2 separate regions of the Homo sapiens genome follow, and region 1 is linked to region 2. The links come from fine-mapping of genetic effects on gene expression. A gene starts in region 2. The other region holds a variant in brackets. All regions are shown on one strand. Distances are from middle to middle.

Region 1 (3,011 bases), 37 kb after region 2:
GCCTTGAAGAGTCTCCATGGGGCCTCAGCTTCCCCACTGTGGGGGACACCACATGCTGAACAGTGAGTGCAGGAAGGGGAATCAGAGGGGCACTGGGCAGGCAGTGCAGGAAGGGGAACTCAGAGGGACATTGGGCAGGCAGCCCGGCAAAGTGGCCTCCCTCAGTGCAGGGAGCCCTGGAGCGGTGGAAGTTCCGGCCTGAGAATCTGGGGCCTGGCTGCACCCTCACCTTGGAGGTCGGTTAGCCTTGTGGTGGTTGGTGGGGGTTGGGGAGCTCCATGCTCAGTACCCCTAGAGAGAACTTTGCAACTGAGCTGGGCTCCGAAAGCCACCGGAAACCAACCCACACCACGAGGCTTGAGGAAGAGCCCAGCACAGTCCTCGGTGGTTTTTTGAGCCTGGTCCTTCCCTTCTTGTTGGCCTGACGCTTGTCCTGCCCTCTTCCTGGGTCCCAGATGGGGCCTCTTGGGCTGAGGGCTGGGGGCTGGGTGAGAGCAGATGCCTCGCTCTTTCTCTCTTTAACGTAAAAATGCGCAACTGGAAGGAAGGAAGTGGTGAGAGTGAGGAAGCGCAAGATGGTTCGAGCCAGCCTGGAGGCAGAGCTGGAGTCCCGCGCCAACTCTAGCTGTGTGACTGGGGCTTAGTCTCTTTGCCTCTCTGGGCCTTGTGTTCTGGTCTGTAAAATAGGATCATCATTGTTGCCACTCATGATTATGTGGGGGTGATTAAGTGTTGCAGTGCTTAGCACAGCTTGATGTCACGCGAGCCCTTCATGACTCCAGGGGGACATTCTGAAGCCCCGAGGGCTCAAGCTCTCCCGCAGGAGGCCTGGAAGGTGTGTGGCCCTGGAGCCCTCCTGGGCAATCCCCGCTACCCCTGATGGTCACTGGGGCAACACCACTGGCCATGAGAATCAGCTCTGGCTGAGGGCAGTGACCTGCCGTCAGCCCTGGGCTCTGAGGTGAGGCAGAGCCTGTTCCCATGGCTGCAGCCTGGGCTGCGACACCTTTAGAAAAGCCGGTTCATCCAGCCCGGCGGGGACCTAGGGAGGAAGGAAAACAAAACTGACACGAGTATTGATGGAGCATGAAACTGATGAAATGAAAAGGTTAGCCTGTCCTAAGCGCTGGACTCAAGGCCGGTGCTCTCCTTGTTGAAAAGGGACATTGGCAGGTTTTAGGGAAAGTCCCTGAAGGCCAGGCACCAACCACCATGCCACTGCCTGGGTCCGCCAGTATCATTCTTAACAATGAGAAGTGGCTTCATCTCTCTGCCTCAGTTTCCTCATCTTTAAAATGGGCACAGGCCGGGTGCAGTGGCTCACACCTGTAATCCCAGCACTTTGGGAGGCTGAGGAGGGC[A/G]GATCACCTGAGGTCACGAGTTCGAGACCAGCCTGGCCAACATGGTGAAACCCCATCTCTACTAAAAATACAAAAATTAGCTGGGCATGGTGGCAGGTACCTGTAATCCCAGCTACTCGGGTGGCTGAGGTACAAGAATCACTTGAACCCAGGAGGTGGAGGTTGCAGTGAGCAGAGATCACGCCACTGTGCTCCAGCCTGGGCGGCAGAGTGAGACTCCGTCTCAAAAAAAAAAAATTAAGAAAATAAAATGGGCATAAGTACCTACTTTATAGGGTTGTTGTGAACCCTATGTAATAATGTAAAGCTCTTAGAATAGTTCCTTCCATTTTGAGGGTACGTAGGTTAGCTGCTGTTACATTATTATTATTACTACTATTAATACTGCTGCAGCGATTACTGTTACTGCTGCTGCCGTTATTACTGTTATTATTTTAAAATTAAGAGCTCATCCTGTGTCAGGCAGCCTACTCAGCATCTTATGTGGATTTATCTCATTTGATCATCTCATTAGCCCCATCATGTTACCTGGATATTCCTATGATCCCCATTTTACATATGAGAAATCACGGCTTGAAGACATGCTGTGATTACTCAAGACCATGTGCCTGGTAAGGGGCAGAGCCTGGGCCAGCACCCCTCTCCCCACCTTGTGTTTGACCCTGAACCATCCCCTTTGATATGGGAAGGATTAGGTCTGCACCCATCTCACAGATGAGGAAACTGAGGCTCCAAGAGTCAGGCACCAGTGGTGAGGGGGAGGTGAGAGTCAGGTGTGGATGTAGCAGGTGCCTATGGAGAGAGAGAGAGAGAGCAGAGGCAGCGGGCTTCAGAGCCATTTACACACCCACTGGGGGTTGTGAAGCCAGCACCTGGGGACACTGTGTCCCCAGCTCAATTCCTAGCAGGTCAAGCATGTCTTGTTGCTGCTGGTTGGGGACAGGCCTCTTGTGTTGAGTTAATTTCTTCTCCAGGCACATGGGTCAGGCTCTTCTAGGTGGTTTCTCCCCCACCTCTCCTCCCTCTCTCCTGGGACATTGGGGTCTGCTCTCCTTCCAGGGTCTGGACACCTGGGCCCTGGGGAAGGCACCTGGGGAAGGGCAGTGCCTCAGGATGGGCCAGACAAAGAGGGAAGCCCTGCGTGCAGCCATCTTCATTATTCGCTTCATTATTCGCTCAGCAAACCATTTATTGACCACCTTGCCAAGCCCAGCAGTGCAAGGCACTGAGGACGGGGTGCTGTGGACATCACAGGGTCCCCATCCTGCAAGGTGCCATCTGTGGTGCACTCCCAGTTCACCAGACACCGTGCTGAGCATGTTGCAGACTTTATCTCCTCTAAACTGTACGGCAACCCTGTGAGGTTCCTGTTTGCAAAGGAGTAGACAGAGGCTGGGTGAGGCAACGCCGTTTGACCCAGGTAGCAGAGTAGGGTAGAGCCCAAGTGTGATTCCAGAGGCTGTGCCCTTCACCCTCTGTCAGTATCAGTGTGCCCTCCTCACAGACGAGAAAACAGACTCAGGAAGGATTAGCAACAGCCAGTGAAAGCCAGAGAGGGTTTGGCTAGCAGCATAGCAGCCAGCGGCTTCTCTGTTCTCCCAGATTCCCTCTGGAGCTCCACGTGGTCCCTTTCTCAGGGATCTGGGCCTT
Region 2 (2,706 bases):
CAGACCTGATACCTGACGGTCATTGATGGTGGTGTCACTAAGCACTGCAGAGCCTTCAGGAGAGCCTTGACCTTGATGTTCTGCCCTGGCTGTGTGCCTCTCCAGGGGACAAGATTCCATAGCGCCCACCAGCCTCTGTGGCCATGTGCTGTGTCCACGCCAGGCCCTCTGGTGGACATCTCATTAACTTATCCTTATTTTAAGGAGGAGGAATCACATTACACAGGCAACAGCATCGGCCCCAGTCACCCCAACTGGATGGAGAGCCAACCCCTCAAGCCATCTTAACCCAGAACTTCCCTAATGGGCATGGGGACCACCGGCATTGCCTTCTCTCCAGCAGTTTGTCCCAAATGCAGCCTCCTGGGCCCACTTCTGCAGTTGTTTTTTTGTTTGTTTGTTTTTTGAGACAGAGTCTTGCTCTGTCGCCCAGGCTGGAGTGCAGTGGCAAGATCTCAGCTCACTGCAACCTCTGCCTCCCAGGTGCAAGTGATTCTCCTGCCTCAGCCTCCGGAGTAGCTGGGATTACAGGCATGTGCCACCGCGCCTGGCTAATTTTTGTGTTTTTAGTAGAGACGGGGTTTCACCATGTTGGCCAGGCTGGTCTCGAACTCATGAGCTCAAGTGATCCGCCCGCCTTGGCCTCCCAAAGTGCTGGGATTACAGGCGTGAGCCATGCGCCCAGCCCGCTCCTGCAGTTTGAGGTGCCTCTCAGCCACCGGGCTGTGCAGGGCCCACACGGGCCGCCACGTGGGTGTGTTCACCTCAGAAGGTGCTGGGGCTTTCCTGGAAAAAACCAAAGCGCATGGTGCATTTTCAAATAGGATTATTATTACTGTTGTTCTCCATAGAGCTATTTCATGCTCGCTGACTTCCTTGACTATCTCAGTGGAGTTTCCCTCCTAAGATCTGGAGGATGTAAGGTGGGATGGGTTGGGAGTGGGCATAGCACCTCCCAGGGGTCCCACCCCTCCTACCCACGCCCCCAAATTTGCTCACACCTGCTTCCTTCCAGATCCAGCAGGTGTGCGGAAGGGACGAGGTACGTGAGCACTGCTGCACGAACGGGGACTCCAGAGCGGTGGGCTCCGGGGTCCCCTTCCCGGCGGTTTCCGGGCCGGGGCGGGGCGGGGCGCTCCCCTAGCCGCGCAGTGCGCGAAACCGGCGTGCGCTAGGACCGCGGCGCGCCGCCCTCCGCCGTTATATGAGGCCCCGCTCCGGCCCCACGCGGAACCCGCGGCTCCGAGCCTTCGCCGGCGTCCCGACCCGAGGCCGGACCCGAGGCCAGTCCCGCCGCTGCGCAGCCGAAGCCAGTGCGGGGCCTGAGAGGGACGCGCGCCCCGGGGCCCCCGCCGCGGGCACCATGGGCGCTGCCCACTCCGCGTCTGAGGAGGTGCGGGAGCTCGAGGGCAAGACCGGCTGTGAGTACCCGCGGGGGGCGGCGCGGGGACCGGGGCGGGACCTCCGAACGGCCACTGTTGGGGACCCCGGCCCGCCGCCGCGCTGTGTGACCTTGGGCCAGTGGCGGGCCCTCTCTGCGCCTCAGTCTCCTCCTCTTTCAAATGGGTCCCCGCTGGCCACCTCGCGGGCTGCGGCGAGGAGCTCCGCGGCGATGCTCAGTGCCGCAGCCGCTCAGCTTCGGACTGGCCCGGGAACTCCCTGGCCGGGGGACTGCGGACCGGGGAGGGAGCGGGGCCCAGGCTTCCCAAGCGCAGGGCAGGTGCCTCAGGCCGGGCGGGCAAGTCCCTCAGGCACCCCCGCTGGCGCGCGCGCCCCACACCTGAGAGTCGTTTGCATTCGTGAGCGCGAGAGCGGAAAGTTTTGAAGTCGGCGGACCTGGGTGGGAACAGGTCTCCGACGCTCCCCGGCCGGGTGACCTTAGTCGGGAGAGCCGGCGCCCGGCGCCTGCTTTCGTCCTCGCATCTGTAAAATGGGTTCAGGCAGCCTCATCCCCGCGGGTGGCTGGGAGACTTAGCGAGGCAGCGGCCGCAGAGCACTTTGCCCGGAGCCCAGCGTCCTCCCCTGAGTTCGCTGAGTCTCCCGGGACCAGCAAAGGCTGCGCGCCCCGCATCGGCCCGGAGGCGGGGAGCCCTGGGAGGCCTGGCCGAGCTGCCCGCAGGGAAATGGCGGAGAAAGCGCTTCTCTGCCCGAGTTCAGCCGGGCTGGGGACTTGGCCCTGGGTCCTGAACTCGGCATGGCCAGTTCTGCCTCTGGCTGTGGACCAGGGTGTGGACTGGAGACCGCGGGGGCCAGGTGTGTGGGCAAACCGGCTTTGGCGAGCGACAGACCGGCTGTGAACCCTGCCAGCTGCACTTCCTGGCTGTGTGACCTTGGGCTAGTCACTTTACCTCTCTGATTCTCAGCTTTCCTTCTCTGTTGTAAGAGTTCTCCTAGTACCTGGTAGACGCTCAGGAAATGGGAGCTGCAGATATTTTGGGAAAGAGCTAGCTCCTGGCACCTGCTTCAAGTGCAGAGAACCAGCGTCCAGTATTGATCACCAAGAGAGGGTGGCCCAGCTGTTTGTGTGTCAGCTGAAAAGCAACCCCTCTTGACCCCCAATCTAAATACCCCTTTCCAGGAGAACTGGATGAAAATTGCAGAAAACCATTAATAACTGGTGTGTGTATGCACGCACTTATACGTCTATATCTGTATCTCTGTGTGTGTAGAGATATAGAAATATCCAACTAAAGAAGTAAAAGGTGT

What was found.
Region 1: its variant is fine-mapped to the expression of TESC in blood mononuclear cells (TOPMed, PIP 0.95).

What each region holds. Positions count from the first base shown.
Region 1 is chr12:117,060,815-117,063,825 of GRCh38, reverse strand. All of the region lies in intron 2 of TESC (tescalcin), which reads left to right. Among named protein-coding and RNA genes, the nearest start is that of TESC, 37 kb to the left of the region's middle. RefSeq lists enhancers at 1-636, 637-1,413. The variant A/G (reference allele first, on the strand shown) is at 1,362.
Region 2 is chr12:117,097,940-117,100,645 of GRCh38, reverse strand. TESC (tescalcin) reads left to right here and starts at 1,230. Exons shown (of 8, transcript NM_017899.4): 1 at 1,230-1,421. The coding sequence starts at 1,364. TESC-AS1 (TESC antisense RNA 1) reads right to left here and starts at 1,179. Exons shown (of 3, transcript NR_120464.1): 1 at 1,002-1,179; 2 at 6-193. RefSeq lists silencers at 14-231, 1,098-1,236, 975-1,494, 1,555-1,664, 1,735-1,834.